2 separate regions of the Homo sapiens genome follow, and region 2 is linked to region 1. A link means that fine-mapping ties the variant in region 1 to the expression of a gene that starts in the linked region. Tissue or cell type: whole blood. Region 1 holds a variant in brackets; the other region holds the start of a gene. All regions are shown on one strand. Distances are from middle to middle. Region 1 overlaps HIRA (histone cell cycle regulator). Region 2 holds the start of C22orf39 (chromosome 22 open reading frame 39).

The links. PIP is the estimated chance that this variant, and not a neighbour inherited with it, causes the effect. A credible set is the group of variants that fine-mapping cannot tell apart.
Region 2: C22orf39 starts here. The variant in region 1 is the best candidate, but not a certain one, in a credible set for the expression of C22orf39 in whole blood (INTERVAL, PIP 0.71).

Annotation. Positions count from the first base shown.
Region 1 is chr22:19,421,942-19,426,941 of GRCh38, forward strand. The region is part of intron 1 of HIRA (histone cell cycle regulator); the gene reads right to left. Among named protein-coding and RNA genes, the nearest start is that of HIRA, 7.3 kb to the right of the region's middle. The variant T/C (reference allele first, on the strand shown) is at 2,907.
Region 2 is chr22:19,445,215-19,450,742 of GRCh38, forward strand. C22orf39 (chromosome 22 open reading frame 39) reads right to left here and starts at 2,497. Exons shown (of 3, transcript NM_173793.5): 1 at 2,451-2,497; 2 at 2,164-2,331. The coding sequence starts at 2,474. It overlaps UFD1 (ubiquitin recognition factor in ER associated degradation 1), which reads right to left. Exons shown (of 12, transcript NM_005659.7): 12 at 4,697-5,528. The coding sequence ends at 5,456. UFD1-AS1 (UFD1 antisense RNA 1) reads left to right here and starts at 2,220. Exons shown (of 2, transcript NR_186687.1): 1 at 2,220-3,111. RefSeq lists an enhancer at 1,693-2,595 and a silencer at 2,043-2,442.

The sequences.
Region 1 (5,000 bases):
GATTACAGGTGTGAGCCACCATGCCCGGCCTGTTCTATCTTATCTCATACCCCATATTTGACCCTACCTTCCCAACATACCCATAACCCAAACTTTCAGGAGAGATGCAAATGTTCCTTAACTTTATCAGGGAACAGGTTACAAAGTACATTAACTTGTCAAAAGTCAACACATTATACATTTAAGGTCTGGACATTTTATTTATACCTGAAAAGAATGTGTTTATATATACACACACACACACACACACACATACACATATATATATATACATATATATATTACATATACATATAAACACATATATACATGTAATGTATTACATAAACACACACACACACAGAGTCTCCCCCACCAGCTCCAACCATTTCTTGCCATCACAGCCATCACCATCCTGATCCAGACCATCTCTTGCTTGGATTACTACCAGTAGTTGGCATTATAACTGGTCTCCTGGCTCCTCCCTCCCTCTGGTCCCCCACAACCAATCTAGTCTCCACGTAGCAGTCAGAAAGATCTCTAAAACTCACGTCAGATCACAGTAGTCCTCTGCTCCCCTTGCAGTGAGAATCAAGGCCTTCTAGTAGCCTACTAGGCTCTCCCAATCAGTCTGCTATTCACTCTCTGGCCTCCTCTCTCACAGCCCTTGCCTTGCTCCAACCACAATGACATCTGTGCTACTGCTCAAACCCTCCAGGCAAGTTCCAGCTCTTCTTTCTGCCTGGAATGCTCTTCCCTCAGATGGCACCTTCCTCATCTCCATGAGGCCTGCAGCGAATGCTGTGGTATCATGCCCAGGTCCCTACCCTCCAGGGACTAAAGCACACTCCCATAGCTATCTGTGGAGTGTTGGCAGCCCCAACAGCTCCCTGTAGTCTTCCTCCAGGTCAGACCTGCCCTCAGTGGAAGCACTCTTTTGGCAGGGTCAGGTCTCCTTTCCAAAAGAGCCTATATCCAGGCTGTGGACACGGGAGTAAAGGGCCCTGGTCTCCCACCCCAATCCACGACAATTCTGAAGGGCCTCCCCAGCTACAGAACTCCCAGCAGGGCTGGCTGCGGCTTTCTCTGTGCTTACATCATAGCTTGCCTTCTCCCTCTGTCTGGTGCTGCTTCCTTCACTCCTTCAATGGTGTGGATCCCGAGAGCCCTCCCCAATAATCCTGCATGCAAAAATCTGCAGCTCAGAATCTGACTCCTGCAACAAGGCCTTTGCTCAAATGTTACCTTTTCACTCAGGCTTTGCCAAAGCGTCCCACTTAAACCCGTCTATCCCCCGCCTCTGCCTCAGCATTCCTCATCTCTAAGTCTGCTGTTTCTCCAATTCACAGGATCTTGTTTGTGATTCCGCTATGTGTCTCACCAGGAAGCTCCCCTCCCACATCTCCTCTTTTCCACTTACACAGGAAACCCCCAGCAGATCCCATCCCAGTCTCACTGGCCAGGATGCATAACAGGCTGCTCCTCAAGAGCCTGGCATGCTGCTTGGTTCACTGCTGTTTTAAGAGCTGAAAACATACACACACTGACTCACACACATGCATACACACACACACACACACACACACACACACACACACACACACATATTTTCAGCTCTTAAAACAGCAGTGAATTTATCAACTGTTTTTTCCATGTGAGACCTTCTGTTAGAGGATGCAGCAGACCTGGAGTCTGCTCCAACGTAGGTCTATCCCTGGACCTCAAATAAGGCCTGCTGTCCCTTCTGTCTGGTCTTCACCACAGTGGCTTTTGCCAGGGTAGCCTCCCAGGGAATTGGCCTACCCTAGGTTTGTTAATGCATCGAGGCAGACAATGCTTTTAGGAGCAACAAATGTTAATCTAAATGGGTTTTCTTTTTGCCAGGAGTGTTTTAAAACCATTTGCTATCTGTTTCATCCACTTCCTTTCCTAAAATGGAAGGCTCTAGAAGACAGAATCATGTAAATGAACTCCTTGGGTAAGGCTTGGGCAGAATGTTTCCCCTCATCATTGGAATTGCCAGCAGATTCCACTAGAAAGAGCCAGCCAGGATGAACAAGAAGTTTATTTGCAGTACATCAACTCTACCAGCCAAGGACAACAGACACTGTTAGCTGCCCATCCATCAGCCACTTTCCATCACCAACTTCCAGCACTCAGCACTCCTTCAACATTTACTGAGTGACTACTATGGTGTGTACCAAGTACCATTCCTGGCCCTGGGAAAAGGGCATGAGCAAAGACAAAGTCTGTTTTCCAGGAGCATATGCTCCCCCAGGGAGGTGTCTAATAGAACTCCAGTTTTATTCAGATATCCACTCTGCCCGTTATGTAAGCCAGTAGGCAACGATGATTGATGCAAGAGAGGGCACATGACCTAGTTGGACCAATCAGCCAATGGGGAAGACCCAAAGTCCAAGGCTGGGGCACAGACCTCTCCCTTCTGCTTCTCACTGAAAACATTCTCGATACCCCACAACCAGAGAACTCTTGAAAATCAAATGCCAGAAAAGGCTCACCAAGCACATTTCAAGAGAAACCTACCAGGTTAGAAGCCCCAAGGCACTCAGAATGGCTACAGAAGCAGTCAGAGGACAAGCTCCAGGGACCAGACTCCTGGTCCCATGCTGTACCACGTGGTTTCTGAAAGCTGTCCTTCTGAGGAGGAAATGGGCCTGAAGCTCTCCAGGACGGAGTGGCCAGCCTCAGCACAAAGACCAGTGCTTAGCAAATTAGAAAGAGTAAGTCTGGGCTTGGGCTGGAGTCTAAGTGTGACTCTCAACACATCTCCATCACATCTAGTGGAATCTTGGTGCCAGGGGGTCACCTCATCTCACTCAGCCTAAGTTTCCATCTGTGAACTGTAATGCTGCAAGTCATAGAGAATTTCGAGGGTAATCTTCTATCGTATATAACAAGTCCTGAGA[T/C]AGGTCAGCTTCAGGGTGCATTAATTTAGCAACTTAAAGAGACGTGTCCCTCTGTCTTCCTCTCCTGTCATCAGTGTCGGCCCTGTTCCAAGCTGGCTTTTACACGCAGACCTAGTAAAGTCCAGCAGAAGAGACTAGCCTGTCAAGCATCTCCTCTTATTTAATTCCCTAGGAGGTCCCAGCAGACGTCCCCTCCTAGTCTCAAGGGCCAAAATGGCATCACATGGCTGTTCCTCAACAAATCCTTGGCATTTACCCACACATCAGCTTAGGGCTATCAGCAGGTTGGCCTGCAGAAGGCAGACCAAAAAAATTGGGGTTCTGCTAACAAGGAACAAGGCAGGCAACCCTACAATATTTGCAACACTCCCTTTGTGCTATTTGACAATATGCACAATGTTCACAATCCCACTCACTTCTAGGTGTTGTTGCTGACTCTGGCAGGATGATAAAATGTGCTTTGCATAAATTTTTGGTCCCCAGGGCTCATTCCATACCTCTGGTTCATGTGCTAGACACTTCTGCAGTCCATAGGCAAACACCCCGGATGAACAGAACATGCTAGCAACCTCTGGGGAAAGGGAGGGGTCAAGCCAGACACAGAGCATCCTCTTCCTGGTCACCGACAGGACCCAAGATCAGCACAGTGGAAGCAGGTCTCCTACTTGGCTTCAGTGGTCAAGGCCAGACGCTCCTCAGAAGTCCCTCCCAGCTGTGTAACTATGATTCTGCTCATAAAGTGAAAATAGTTTTCAACCACTTCTTAGAGTAAAACAAATGTTTAAGAAAATCCCATTTCCTGGCCTTCATCCATATTCTTTCTGCAGCATATTAAAGAAATAAATTCAGAGAGAGGCTGGGAGCGGTGGCTCACACCTGTAATACCAGCACTTTGGGAGGCCGAGGCGGGTGGATCACCTGAGGTCAGGAGTTCGAGAGCAGCCAGGCCAACGTGGCGAAAATGTGTATTAAAAATACAAAAACACTAAATACCGAATACTAAAAATACAAAAATTAGCCAGGCGTGGTGGCATGTGCCTGTAATCCCAGCTACTCGGGAGGCTGAGGTAGGAGAATCACTTGAACCCGGGAGGTGGAGGTTGCAGTGAGCTGAGACCATGCCACTGCACTCCAGCCTGGCCTGGGTAACAGAGCGAGACTCTGTCTCAAAATAAATAAAGAAAATATATAAGTAAATAAATACATTCAGAGTGGCCCAAATCTACAGTCACCTGCCTACATGGCCAAGTCCCATTAATTCTACCTCTACCCTGTCTTTAGTGCCTCTCTATTTCTCACCTCCATCACCTGTGATCTCCCTGTCTCCCTGAGCATCTCACCAAGACTAGAAATTCCTAACTCCTCTAGGGCCTGCCTAAGACACAGGTTGGGTGTTTCATCCAGCTTCCTCAGAAGCCTCAATGTTCTCCTCTCTCCCCTAACCCCAAGAAGGAAGTTCAAGCTGCTGGCAAGGCTCTGCCTCCCAGCCCCATTCTCCCTCTTGCCCTGTTTAGCCTCCCTCCTAACATGTTCTATGTCTTTCCCTAAATGCTTTCACCCTCTGGGCCTTTTCTCCTGATGGTCTCATGTGCTGTAGCGCCTTCTCTGCCATCACAATTCTAGTCACGTCAAGGTTCAGTCCAAGGACACATCCACAAACCCGACTCTGCTGGTGAAGTGCCCTTCCTCCTTGGGCTATCACGCTTATTCCTCTAGCTCCTGTTTCCCCTGCCCTGCATTCTAGAATACGGTTTGTATGTCAATCTCTCTCATCTATCTTCCACACAGCTTTCTGTTCAGAGAGAGAGCCTTATTTACCTCTGGTCCCCACAGAACTCTTACCAGAAAGGTTCAATGTTTGTTGCATAAATCAGTGAAAAATCCACAGCAAAATCTCACCCAGTTTTCTTCTGACTCTTCAGATGTACTCTGGTTATTTTCCTAAATCAACCTACTGTCTTCAGGCATAAGTCAGGAGAGAAATTGCTGAGAGAATTTGCATTTTCTGAGCTACCACATGGAGCAGGTGAGGCAAGAATTACTGACTTCATGAACAGATTAGGAAGAGATGGAAAAACTTTTTATGTCACATAT
Region 2 (5,528 bases), 24 kb after region 1:
TAGAGCTAACATGTTTCCCTAAAGATAGGATAATCTTTTGCTGGCTAGTCTACTTCCTGCTTTCTTTTCACTAAACAATACACTGTAGGCACTTTTCCATACCCAGGGAGATGACCGACCATTCTTTTCAAAGGCTATCTGGTATTTCACTTTGTGGAAAAAGCTATTTGGTCAAATGTCTATTAGTGAAATTTAGGTTGTTTTCAGCTTTTGCAGTATCAAAAACATAATTAGCATTCTAACTTTTAACTGTACACTGTTATCCAATTACTTCCCTGGGATAAAGTTCCAGAAGTAAAACTTAAGGTCAAAAGGTATGTATCTGACATTTACATAATCAGAACACCTGACACCCCCACCAACACTGCACAACTACCCAGAATTCTTCAAACCTCTATCAACACCACTTTCTGCTGTTACTGTCATTTAGACTTATATACCTGACACCTGGCCATTTGATTTTTTCTTTTTTTTTCTTGAGAGGGAGTCTTACTCTGTTGCCCAGGCTGGAGTGCAGTGACACGATCTCGGCTCATTGCAACCTCCGCCTCCCAGGTTCAAACAATTCTCCTATCTCAGCCTCCCGAGTAGCTGAGATTACAGGTGTTTGCCACCATGCGTGGCTAATTTTCGTATTTTTAGTAGAGATGGGGTTTCGCCATGTTGCCAGGCTGGTCTCAAACTCCTGACCTCAGGTGATCTGCCCACCTCGGCCTCCCAAAGTGCTAGGATTACAGGCATGAGCCACCATGCCCAGGCTTTTCTCCTTTTTTATTATTTTTATAAAGATGGAGTCTCACCATGTTGCCCATGGCTGGTCTCAAGCTCCTGGGCTCAAGCGATCCCCTTGCCTCGGCCTCCCAAAGTGCCGAGATTACAGGTGCCCACCACCATGCCCAGCTGGCTTTCTTTTTTAATGAATTGCTTCTTTGTGTCCTTTGGCCATTTTTCCATTCTGAAATAATCCCTATATTTCTTATTGATATATATATAACAGCTCTTTATACACACACACGCACATATATATACATTAAAGTTATCAATCTCTTGCTATATAAGCTGTCAGCTTTCTTACTTTTTTTGACTTTCACATATTATGGAATAGTCATCATTTTCTTTTATACAGCAGTCTGGTTTCCACATCAGTTCATCTCTTTCAGATCACTGTATACACTTAATAATGTTGAAGTGTTGATCAGTCCCATTGATTCTCATTCCTTGGCACTCCCCATGAGCCTCGCACCTTTCGGCTGGCTTCTCTCCATCTCCTCTCCCACAAGGGGTCCACCGTAGCACTGTATTCTACACTACAGTGTGGGTGCCAGGAGGGCAGAGACTCTTCTTATCACTCGTGCATCCCCAAGAGCACCCAATGTGGTACATATTTGCTGGACGAAAAAACAACTAGAACCACCTCCTTACCGGTCTCTCTGCTCCTGTAATATATTCTCTACACCCTAGCAAACAGATTGAACTTCTTTTACCCTCTCTCTTTTTTTTCCCCCCTGAGACAGGTCTCCCTCTGTTATCCAGGCTGGTGTGCAGTGGTGTGACCATAGCTCACTGCAGCTTTGAACTCCTGGGCTTAGGCGATCCTCCCGCCTCACCCTCCCAAGTAGCTGGGACCACAGGTGCACGCCACCACACTTTGCTAACAGACTGATCTTTTAAAGATATAAATCGAATTATGCCTCCCAGCACACTTTAGACTAAACTCTAAACTCCGTATCAAAAGGCCCGCCAGGTCCCTGGTATACCGCTCTCCAACCATCCACCTACCCTCTGCTTCAGGAACCCAGGCCTTATCTGTTTCTCAGCGGTGTCTACCGGGGCTGGATGAAGGCTGGCTCCTGGTCACTCAGGACTCAGCAACATCACCTCCTGCGTAGGCCAGCTGATGACCCTAACACCGGACGGCTGCCCTCTTCCCTCTCTAAACCACTCTACACCCCCTCCTCGCTGGTCTCCTCCTTTGTCTTTCACGCCCTCTGAAAGTCCTGTTGATATGCTAATTTACACAATCTCTCAAAAGAAAGGAAGCGTGAGGAGGATAGGGACCCCGTCAGTCCCCGGCTAGGTCGCGGGGCATGGGGCGTGGAGGGGTGGGGAAAGCTGGGCCCCGCAAGGCGCTCCGAAGCGCCGCCCCGCTCCCTCCCGGCGCACCTGGGCCTCGGCGTTCCGGCGCTCCTCCCAGTCGCGGCAGCTGGCCAGGTCGCGCTGCCACTGTTCGCAGGCCGGCCGCTCGCCGTGGACGTAGTAGTGGTGTAGGAAGTGCCTGGCGCTGCGGCAGAGCTTCCACTCGGCGCGGTAGGCCTCGCAGGGGCGCGGCGGCTGCGGCGAGAGGCGGCGCCTGAGCGGGGCCCGGCGGCCGCGCCCTACGCCCCGAGCCAGTCCCGTTCCCTCCCTCCGGAAGACCCCGGTGGTTCCCGGCTCCGACCCAGCACACTCACCTGCCAGCCGCTGCCGTCCGCCATGTCTGGGCGACCGGCGCGCCAAGCCCGCCCCTCAGTCCGCCAGCCAATGAAAAATGAAGAAAACGGCACCTCGTGATCGACTGACAGAAGAACTAATGAGCACCGACACATTCAATCACGTCTTCGCCCCCTTCTTCGAGAAGCGCCGACAAACAGGACGAGCAACCAATAGCAACCGAGGGCGGCTGCGGCGCGCGCGGAGGGCCGGGGTCGCAGGGTAAATCCGGGGCGAGACCTGGCGCGAAGCCTACGCGACCACCGCGACGACAGCGCCATTCACCCCGGGCCAGGCGGGCATCCTGGGCCGCGCAGCTACCTTACGTCAGCCGCCTCTCAAATCACACGGCTCTGGCCAGTTCTTTTCAGCAGCTTTATGAGATTTTCTCAAATCTCAACAATCCGGTATATTTTCAAAAGTACATACTGAGCATCAAGGTGGTGCAGCGAACCTCCCAGATCTGCAGCTCCAGCAGTCTTGCTTGAGCGTCCACTCAGGATGGAGGTGAACTCGCAAAGTAACTGAGATTGGTTGGGCATGACATATGGTGGATCTAGGGTTGAATGACCTCCCCAGGGAACGCAGGCTTGAAGTGGAGGCTGAGAATGCAATCCGAGTACAGCCATAGGCCGGTCAAAGGTATGGAGGCGGTGTGTAGCAGGGGTGAGCGGGGTAGGAGTGGCTTGGATGTCTGTAGTTCTATTCTAAGGGTGCGGGAGACATGTAACATTTACCTTATTCATTTTTCGAGACAGGGTCTTGCTGTGTCACCCAGGCTTAGTGCAGTGGCGTGGCGTGTTCATGGCTTACTGCAACCTCAAACTCCTGGACTCCGAACAGCTGGGACCAAAAGCATGCACAGCCTCACCAGGCTAATTTTTAATTTTTTTTTTTTTTTTTTGTAAAGATGGGGTCTTGCTAAGTTACCCAGGCTAGTTTGGCCTCAAGCGACCCTCTCACTTTGGCCTCCCAAAGTGCTAGGATTATAGGCGGAGCGCCAGTGCCTGGCTGGGACGTTTATAAAAAGGAGCAATGCACAAGAGGCAACAAAGGCAAGTAAAGAGGAGGCTGGTGGGCTTGCAGAAACGCCCTGCAGTACCTATGCTGCGGTTCTCCCACTTCACTGATAACAAATCCTCAGTATCCACTGATACAAATCCTGGGACTGCTGGGCCAGTCCCAGGAATGACACTGGGACAGACTCCCTGGAGGTGGATCAGAAAGCTGCAGTTTTACCAGGGGTCCTGCTGTTGAGGCAGCCGGCTCAAGGACCAAGCCCAAATAAGACACTGAGAGGAAGGCTGCAGGCCAGGGTGCAGGAGTAATGACCAGGATCAGTGCTCCAACTGGCCCCACTGTGTCATTAAAAGGCTCTGCAATGGAATCCATCCTGGTCCAGGCAGGGGAGTGTGCCTCCAGCAAAGGACCAGGCGTTTCACTGCATACACAGCAGGTGTTGCTTAGTGAAGACAAAAACCCAGAGCCAGAGGTACTGTAACATTCTTCATTATGCATAAAGTGACAGTCTGTTAGCTGATGTGATCCTGCAAATGAAGGCTGTCTACCCACCAAGGGTTTCTCCCTCTGCTAGTAAAACTGAGACTTTGTCAGTGGAGGCTCAGGTAAGTCCCCACAGTGCTCATGCCTTCCAAAACCACGCCCATTTCCAGTGATGATGGTTTGTGCCACAGGCCAAGTACTGAACATCATGACACTCATAGACACTCTTCACTGAAGACGTGGATAGACCCTGGGGCCACCATTCTCTCCTCTCTGGAGTGTTGGAGGGGCCCTGACCAGGGCAGGACCCCCATGTCTGGAAGCAGGGTTAGCCCTGGCTCATGGGGGACCCTGCTGGGCTTAGCCATTGCCACCTAGGGATCAGGCAGCCTTGTTTCTTCCTACTTTCTCCAGGAGAAGCCCCAGAGGGACACTTTTCTAATGGTGAGATGGAACACGGAGCACCTGCCAACAGGCCTTCAGTTATGGTCAGAGGCCCAACCACCAGTCTGTGTTAGTACCTAATCAAACATTTAGATTTAGGCTTTAGTTATTGCCTGTTTTTACTTGAAATTCTTGGCTTAGAATTATTCCCAATGGGGCCAGGCACAGTGGCTCATGGGAACAAATTTAAAATAATCAGATTAGCATGTCAAAAGATCTCACGTTATAGAAAGTGAAGATCTAAGACCAAATAAATACTGATAAAAAATACAGGCCAGCAGAAGCTTGGATGATTTAATAAATTAAAATTGGGAGTTGGGGAGTAGGGAAGAAGGAGAGGAACATCTCTTTAGCATTTGTTCATTCTAACATTCACATGTTTGCTTCTCCATGGAGTTGTTTCACTATGAACAGGTTCACTAAGGAGCCAGTTATGTCCATATGAAATGAGAATAAAAGTGCAAACTCATTCAGATCAGGTTCTTCTGAGTGGTGTTTTTGAAAAAAATATGTAAAATAAAAATAGAAACATTCTTTGTCAAATACTTAAATTGCAGCCACAGTAGTGGGACAGCCACTACTTATAGAACACATGTCTATTTAAAGCCTTTTTTTAGGCCAAAGACTGACACCTATGCAATTGATGTAGGAAAAGAAAGGATAAATGAAGAAAAAGAAAGAACACTTCATGTTAGACAATTTAGTCACCTTCATAGGTTTTGACAGAATTAGGGATGCAGAATTGCTCCTGCTGAGGCAGTGGGAGCTCCCCTCAAGCTGAAAGCGTGAAGAGGTGAGGAGGCAGCTATCTACAGGCCCTCAGGGACAGCTCTTTGTCTTTCCCCAAATCAAGCATACAACTACAAAGTCCTGCTGCTCCACTTCCAAGTCAAACTTAATAATTCTTAGGTAACTCTAAATAAATCTTAAGTAACAGAGTATTCTCTGATGAGGCTCGTCCCTGTCAGTGCCAGTAACTAAAAGCCAAGATGTTGCAAATGATTCTTTTATTATTTTCCAATCAGCCAACAGTCCTCACTTAGGGCTTTCTTCCCTTTTTACGCAATGACTGTCCTTCTCCAGAGAAAGCGACGAATCTGCCTCCAGCTTCA